2 separate regions of the Homo sapiens genome follow, and region 1 is linked to region 2. The links come from fine-mapping of genetic effects on gene expression. A gene starts in region 2. The other region holds a variant in brackets. All regions are shown on one strand. Distances are between the middles of the regions.

The links. PIP is the estimated chance that this variant, and not a neighbour inherited with it, causes the effect.
Region 1: its variant is the best candidate, but not a certain one, in a credible set for the expression of GULP1 in cartilage (Steinberg 2020, PIP 0.78).

The regions. Positions count from the first base shown.
Region 1 is chr2:188,326,621-188,331,019 of GRCh38, reverse strand. The region is part of intron 1 of GULP1 (GULP PTB domain containing engulfment adaptor 1); the gene reads right to left. Among named protein-coding and RNA genes, the nearest start is that of MIR561, 31 kb to the right of the region's middle. The variant G/AG (reference allele first, on the strand shown) is at 1,876.
Region 2 is chr2:188,290,123-188,294,521 of GRCh38, reverse strand. It overlaps GULP1 (GULP PTB domain containing engulfment adaptor 1), which reads right to left and starts at 2,648. Exons shown (of 12, transcript NM_016315.4): 1 at 2,356-2,648. RefSeq lists an enhancer at 1-796.

The sequences.
Region 1 (4,399 bases), 36 kb before region 2:
CATAACTAATTGAAACTTTTTTTTCCTACACAAGATTAAGACCATTTAACTGGTGATCTTGTGGTTCAAAACATCTTCTTAGTAGCACTAACAAAGAACAAGTAAAAGCTCAAGGCTCTGGTTGAAACAGAGTGAAGGACCCAGGCATCTTTGGCATACCTGACCCATTGTCGGGGGAGCTGAGAGAGAGACATCTATGGAACTGTGGAAACACCAGTAATCCAGATGAACCTTTTCATTTTCAAACAAAGAATACGAAGCCCAGAGAAGTTCAGTATTATAAATTTACATGGCTTGTTGGTGACAAAATATTCTAGAAATCCACACTTCTGACTCCTAGTCTACTGTTTTTGGTAATAAAGATTTCTTTACTATTGCAAATTGCCTTTTATTCAAAATACTAAAAGTTAGACATAAATCACAGAATGCCCAAGTGTTTAAATTTTTTTACATATAAAGATGCCACAGTGTAAACAAAGGGCTTAAAATAATCACATTTTAAAAGCAGTCTGACATTTCAAGGATAGCTGCAATAACACTCCTTATGTTCTCCTCTCAGAGTTGTAATTTAATTCTGTTTGGCAGGAAAATCAGTGATTACTCTCACTTTCTGACATTTAAAAGTGCCCACCAAAAAGACAAATAATATTTTCAAACATAGTTCTTGTGTTATACATACTTTATATGTCTACCTGAGTTTACATAGACATGTCAGTATTTTATGGATATACCTATTTATAGGTACTTAGGTAGTATACTTGCTAATTATAAAATAGATAAGTTTATTTTTATAAAATACTTACCTAATCTTAAGAATTATTTTAAATGCTGACTGAAATGACCTAACCACCATATATTTACAGTGAAAACTATATTTACAAATATCCAACTAAATAATTTGAGAATCAACAGCCTAGGTAATTTGAGTATGTTTCATAACTTTAAATACTACCTATATGATGACGACTCCTCAATTTGTATCTCTAGCCTACACATTTCCCATGAACTGCCTAAATACAACTACTTTGGCGCATCTCAAAGTTAACAGGTACAAAATCAAATTCCTGATCTTTCTCCCTAAACTCTTCCTCCAATGACTATTCTCCTATCAGAAAAGACAGATCCATCCACCCAGTTGCTAAACTTGGCATAATTCTAGATTCCTCTCTTAATATCCTATATCCATCAGCAAATCCTGTCCCCATCTTGCCAAAATACATCACGAACCCCATCGCTTCTCACTATCTTTGCTTCTACAATCACCATTGCCTTTCTCAACAGACTCCTAACTGGCCTCCCTGCTTCCATCTTTGTCCCCATAGAGATTATTCTCCAAATAGTAGCAAAAGTGACACATTATAAGCTTATCATCACCTCCGCTAATTTCTAATCTCATTCTGAGTATATGCCCTATAAAGGCACTCTGTGATCTTCCCACCTCATTCTACTACCTCTCTGACTTAATTTCCTACTTCTCTCCCACTTCATTTCAGCCACCCAGTCCACTTCATTGTCAATCCAACATTCCAAGAATAAAGCTACTGTTTTTCTATGCAGATGGTTCTTTCCCCCACACACCTCCATGGCTTTTTTCTTCACCTACTTCACATGTCACTGATAATGTCAAACCTATTCCTAGACTACCTATTCCTAGACTAGCATCCTTATCAGTCAGGATCCCAGGAATTGGGTGCTGCATTAAATTCAGACAAACAGTGCAGTTGAATAAAGAACTGTTTACAAGGGTACAAGAGGGATGTAATAAAACCAGAACGTAAAATATAGAACCATTGGCATGGTAATAATAGTGCTATTGCCTCCTCCAGCCTGAAGGAAGAAGAGGAAGAGAAGATAACAGAAACTCAAAAAAAAAAA[G/AG]AGTCCAATAGAGAGGGCTGCCTTGAGAAAAATACTGATGATTGAAGGAGGGAAGCAGACAGCCTGAGACCACCTGTGAAAAAGAAGCTGAGAGAATAAATACAGTGAGAATAAATACAGAGAATAAATGCAGTGAGTGTCCCGAGACCCTTTTGCATTGCAAGTGATTTATGAGTTGATTCATGATGTTTGATCCGTATCATAGATGCTTCTGACTTCTAAAAAGTGGAAAAGAAGGTATGTTTATGTGTTATATTCCAAAAGGCAAGATAGTATTAAATGTTTAAGTATTCATCGTGTATACTCATATTCATCATGAATAAACCAAGTAAGGCCTCTCATAGGACACTCCATCCCCCTGGCAAGAGTTTATTAAAGAAAAGCTCTTTAAGAAACAGACATTAGGTGAATCTGCAATTCCTTGATTTTGTAAATTATTTGTGACATTTAGAACTCATTGTATGCAGTAATCAGAAAAACATTACTTATTCTGTTACAGCTTCTCAGACTCCCCAAAGCTGATGCAACTAAAGGAAAAGATAAAACCATAGGGCAGAAGAGCAAACATCTGTTTTACTTGTGAAAACTGAGGAATTTATGTTGAAGGATAATTAATTAGCAAGCAATATATTTTTGCTGATTCTAGTAGCACCTCCTAGGCCACCTCAGTTGGCGAGGCAAAATAGCAACCAGGATAATATGGCATTAAGAGAAACAGAAGTAGAAAAACGCTAGAAGATATCCCTAGAAAAGGTCTTCCCCATCCACTCCCAGTTTCATTAAGAGACGAATCTCATTTATTGATGATCCCTGACTGTCTTCATTTTCCTGAAAGGGAAGATGGGAATAAACAAGGTTGAGAGAAGATAGAGAGAAATGGAAATAGAGAGATTAAGTTGCTATAAGGTTTCTGAAATGTGCTCTAATCTTAACCCTAGAAATATAACCTCATAGCCATCTTACAATGTATTTTCATCCTATTACACTCCTTTTCCTGTGAAAGGTAATCAGATATGTTATTATGATTGCTCTCCAATTCTAGATCAAAGTGGTGGTGATGGTGGTGTTTCCTCTCTCTCCAAATGCTTTTGGTACCAGATGCTCTCAGACACATACATATTACAAAATGACCTCTTGGTATGTACTTTTACTCATCACTCTGGGCATGTAGGATCATTTGGAAGCAGTGGGAGAAGTAGGAAGTTTCCTGGGAGATATTTCTTTACCAGAACAGCAGAAATAACTTCATTATACACTGAACTAATTTTGAACCACCATAAATATTAGGTTGGCCATGTGAAATTGTCAGTGCTCCATCATTTTCAACCTCAAAAAATGCCACTTTCATATGGCTCACACCAAAATATTCTACTAAGTGCAAAATAAATGTATCCCTAACTCAGCATCCCATTAGCCAGAATTCAAAATTGTCCATGTCCACTCTAACACCATTTTTTACACTAAAAGAAATATGACAAATAGGAGTAGAAGTGCACAGTTTAACCTGATTATGTTTAAATCATCTTAATTGCAAATGTTACATATGGTCATGTGAATAAGATGCAGGGTCTTGGACACAGCCTGAAAAAATAAGGAGCCCTGAAGCCTGTGGTCCATTAACTTCATAGTAAATAGCCTCTACAGTCTCAGTCCTGTCACTGACAGTTTTGTCATCTGACCAGTCCCAAGGAAACTTGTAAGGAGCATTAGAAAAGTAAACACACTTCTCTTTTCCCCCAAAGAAATGTTCCCATATGTCACAAAGAAATAATTCCCAATTTACAGGCACAAGCAGAGCAGAGCCTTGTCCATCTATTGCCAGATTCAAATAATCCTGTCCAAAATGATGAAAACTTGTGAAACAAAGAGCCCTATGTTGGTACAGGAATCTCATCTCCTTATCTTATTCCCTAGGGCATTCATCAATTGCATGTTCTGTACAGTAGGCATCTTGCCTTCACATGTGCATTTGTAAAACACAGAGGCCTCAGATAAAAATGTTCTCAATGCAAAATGTAAACTTGTGCTTTATCTAGAATCTGACACCAGGCTATTTGCTAACTGGCCCTACAGTGAAAGAGCTTTCTGGCCATATGGTTTTTAAGTCTGACACAAAATGCCACACAGAGAATAGAGTTCAGCTAGAGCCCTCGACCCATTTTAGTTAGCATCTTTTTCCCTGCTAGTTTTCCAGATAAGTCTCTCCACCACAGACCGATGCCTTGTACAGACTGTCTGCTGAATTCTGCTGAGTCAGGAGCATAGTCCAGGAGAACTGTGCTGAGTCTACACAAAGGCCACCATCTGTTGCAGAGCTTCTAGGAAGAGTGTCATCAGTATGAAACATGATGTCAGCCCTAATCATTACTGGACTGCTTTGGAAGCTAAAGCCAATAATGGAAACGTATTCCAGAAGGTCATTAACACGACTTCTTTGAAATAATTGAGAACACTGCTACATAAGAAGAATAAATAAAACTATATCAAGTGTTCAATGAATTTAAATTCAAAAGGTATCAAATAT
Region 2 (4,399 bases):
AGATGAAACATACACAACTTTAATACACAAAGAAGAGTCTGAATTGCAGTTAAGGCTTTGAGTTCCTAGCTGGTTTGGAATTAGGAAGCAGTAAAGGGCAAATGTGTGAAATACTGAGATCATCTCACCTTTTACTTCTTTACATGAAAGAGCAAGATCTGTTTATCAGGATCACTTTTGATAAGCACAAAGAAGTCATGCCGGATACGTTTCTACTTTAATTCCATGACCCAAATCCATGCTAGCTGAGAATACGTAATTGAATTATTCAATTTAGGTAGAAAACCATCTGCTCAAACCCTTAAGTCTTCAATTCTTGCTGCTATGAAAACAAAGTAAGGCCGAAGTCAAGGAATTGAAGTTGCAGCAAACCTCGTCCAAGGAGACAAACAGCAACAAAGTGTGGGCATTTGCAAAGTATGATCAGCACAAACAGCATCAGGCCCCCAGCTATTCCACTGCAACACTGATAAGGAAAGTTCAGACTTTGCTCCTGGAGCCCTTTTTGTAATTTCCTCGGTCATATCCAACTGCACTCTATGCTTAGTTTATTTTTTTGCCAAGAAGACTGATCTTAGCCACCTAAAAATTCTCATTGCAAAAGAAACCTCTTGTTTAAACCCCAAGTGCAACCGACAGCCCCTTTCCAATTAGCCCCTGCAACTTGCCCAGTCTCTTTCATGCCTGGCTACTGAGCTCAGTCTAGTTTGGCTGCCGGCCAGGTTCCTCTCTTTTTTTCCTTGTCAGTCGTAAAAACTTGGAAAACACTCCTGGACAGCTCAAGGAGACCTTTAATTATGCAGTGGGGCAGTACCTTAGCCTGTCTGCTGTTTCCAGCAAAGCCTGTAGTCACCAGCGACTGCACTCTCCCAATTTGTGGGTTTTCCAGCCAAGGCTACTTGTTCATATGGGGGGAAAAGGGAAAGACTGGCAGAGAAAGGGAGCAATTTGCAAATTTGAAGAATTTCCAATTCCTCTGAAAGTTTTCCACTTCCTCACATTCACTCTGTCTAATAATCTCCCTTACTTTAGCACCTAATCACCCATTTTGTAATACAGACACAAAATCATCAGTATTGTCTCCTGCTAGTCCTAGAAATCAGTCATGACTTGAACATTCTCCGTAACTTTTTATTCTCAAATGTTGGTGTAACGTATTTTAAAAGCAGGCACAAAATAAATTTATTAAATCCTTCCTAATTGACTGCATTACACTTTGTCAAACTTGCAGATTGAAATAGTGCATGTAAAATGTCTGATTGCAAATGAGTAAGGCGAGCTCAGTTGGGAAACACTACTAGGACCTAGGGAGGGGTACCTTGACTGCCAGCCCTCACTTACTTGGAGTTTGCCCAGCGTACCAAGTGGACCCGCCAAGCCCAACACCAGCTAAGTCTTCCTTACTCTACCTTGGCACGCTAGTTCCAGCTGCAGCGTCCAGCTTCCTGTTCAAGTCCCATTCAACATCGTAAACACATTCCAAGAAAACCAGCCTGCCCAGAGTTCCCTCCCGCACACAGGGAAGTCAGCGCGGCAGCCGCAGGAGCCTCAGAATAGAGAGAACTGCCTGCTCCGGATTCTGATCCGTGTGGCGAGTGAGGCCACGAGAAGGTGGACCCGGCCAAGCGAATTTAGCAGTCGGAGCGAGAACCCAAGGGCTCATCACCCCCGCCGCGCCTTGCGCCCTCCAGAAGAAGCTACTTGACCCGCGCAGCAGAAGGGTAACCATGTGGACGCCGCCCCTTCCTTTGGGCCCTCCCAGCTCTGAGCTTTAAAGTATCCGCGGCCCGGCCTCGGAGCTTCGCGCCTCCCCACCCCCATGCCCACATTCTCTCCCAGCGCCAACAAAAGGGAGGCTGCCCTGGAAGTTCGCTCCTGGGTCGCCTCGCTGTGACCCGACGATGACTTGCCTGCTCAGCCCAGTCTGATCCACGCACCCTCAGCCGGACGGATCCACGGTTTCCCCACCGCCTCCCTCCAGTTCCTGCTCACCGGCCCCCCGCCGCCGGACCAAAGTTACCACAAAAGGCTAAGGAGGTTTCTGGAGCCCGGAGACCGCTGCGTCCCCGACCTCGCTGGACTCCCCCAGTCATTTCTCAAGCGCTGCCATAGCAGGCGTCAACAGGTCTTAGCCTCCTTTAGTGCTGGACGACTCCCTGAGCATTTAGCTGTCCTAATTTTTTACAACCTGCTGGCCAGCGGCTACGCGCAGCCCCGCGCCCTCCTTCCCGGGCACTGGTGGCCGGAGCTGTCCACCCCCACCGCCCCTCGGGATATCAGCTTCTAAGCGATTCCACGCTACCTGGAGGGAGCCTGGGTTCGCAGCCAGGGAAGAGCCTAGATAAATCTCCGTACCTCACTGAGAGAGGCAGTCGGGTCAGGCTTCGGGCAGGGGCGTGGAGAGCTGCCGGTTCCTCCGAGCCTGGCGATCTCCACTCCGGCACGGCCGGGGCGCCGTCTCCGAGGCCGAGAGGGAAAGTTTCTCTACGCCAACACGGCGCTGGACTCGGGACCCTCCAGCTTCGGTCCCCTCCCTCTTCGCGCTCTCTCCCCCCTCCCTCCTCTTCCTAATCCGCCGAATCCAAAACTGGCGCTGGCGGCAGCTGGGACGCGGGGCTGGGGACTCCGGGTCGCTCCCGGCCGGGAACGCCGGGCTCCCCCTCTCGGTGAGAAGGAAACTCTAGCCGACTCCGGCTTGCGCACTTCTGGCGGTCTCCTTGGACATTTCCACACGGGACGCCTGTGTTCAAGCTCGCTGACTTTCCTTCTTTAATCTCTGATGGTCGTTATCTGTGGGCCCACTGGACTATCTCGCGCGTGCACGCGGAACCGGAGGTGGGTGGAGGGTGGAATGAGAGAGAAACCCATCCGCAGAAGGAGGGGCCCTACCTTACTCAGTCTTCAGCCCGGACAGAAGCAAAACCACAGGCCCCCTCTCCCACCCCACTCGCGCCGCGTTTCCTTTCCAGCCTCTTCCCTGAGACACTAGATCAGGACCATTTGCCTTTTCTTATCTCTGTGTGTTTCCTAACACAATTTTAAAACACCTCTGAGGCTTCATAGAGGGGTAAAGTGTCAAAAGAAATACACGAATAAGAGTAAAACGTGCCGTCTTCACAGCCTTTATCAAGAAAGCAGCCACAGTTGCTGCTGCTCTGGCCGCACCTCAGCGGACTGGTTTGTCCTCATTGGTTTGTCCTCATTTGTTTTTTAACTCGGCCTTAATCTCTGGACTTTGTTATGCCTTAAAACAGACACACACATACACACACTTGAAAATTGCCTTAACCCCCAGATCATACTCATTTGTTCCATTCAGATGTTTACCTCGGAATTAAGGACTTCTGTATAGGATTTGAGAGAAAACACAACAGCCCATTCTTACTGACCTTTGGTAAAGTTCTGCGTGGGAAAGGGAGCAAGAAGGAGTATCCTTATATAAGAAGTTCTTCAAGGATGAGAGGACCTTTACTAAAATTTTTTCTGCTGCTCAGAATTTAGTTTACTAAATTTTAGTTTGAGTGTGAAAATAGATGAGAAAAGGAAAAAGGCATTTTGCAAAGCTAGCAGTTATAATGTATTACAGTGGATCCAGGGCTTAGAGTCAGACAGGCCAGATTCCATTCCAAACTCCATCTTTACGCTTTCTGTGCCTACCAATTATAACTGTCAACAGGAATTCTATAATCTAGCTCACGGAGTCACAGTCACATTTACAGGAGTTAAAATAGAGTTGTGATAGGCGCAGAGAAAATACTCAATAAATATTTGGTTCTTATATCCCACCATGTTTTACTGTAATTAGGAGAGAGGGTGGTGCTAGAAATTTTCCCCCAAAGACCCTGTAACTGAATCAGTTTTCTTCTCCTTAATGCTTTTTCCATTTAAAAAGGCATCATTTCACAATTTTTGAAATGGAAACTATGTTTACAGATTAACTAGTTCCAGCTGAACTCCCTTATTTTAAATACAAGGTAACTGAAGTCTAGGGCTCTTAAGTGACTTTCCCCAAATCTCATGGTTTGGAGGTACTAAAGCTAATATCAGAAATCAGTCCTCATAATAACTTGGCTGGGGTCCTCTTTTAACTGTTTTTCTCTTTATCACAATAGTCAAGCACACATAAAAATAATTATATTAAAAATATTAATCTCAGGACAAATGCTAGTTTTTTTCTGTAAATAACTCTTAAGCAATTAATTTATGAACAATCATTAAAAATTAAATAATGTCATTTAGATGATCACTTGGTATCAATGTGATTATAAAAATAAAACAAATGGTAGTCCAGTATTTAGGAATAAGGAGGTTGATGAGATGAACGAATCCATGCTTACATTATATATTTACACATAGATATTTTGGGTTTTTTAGCCATAATATTAAAAGATTATAATAA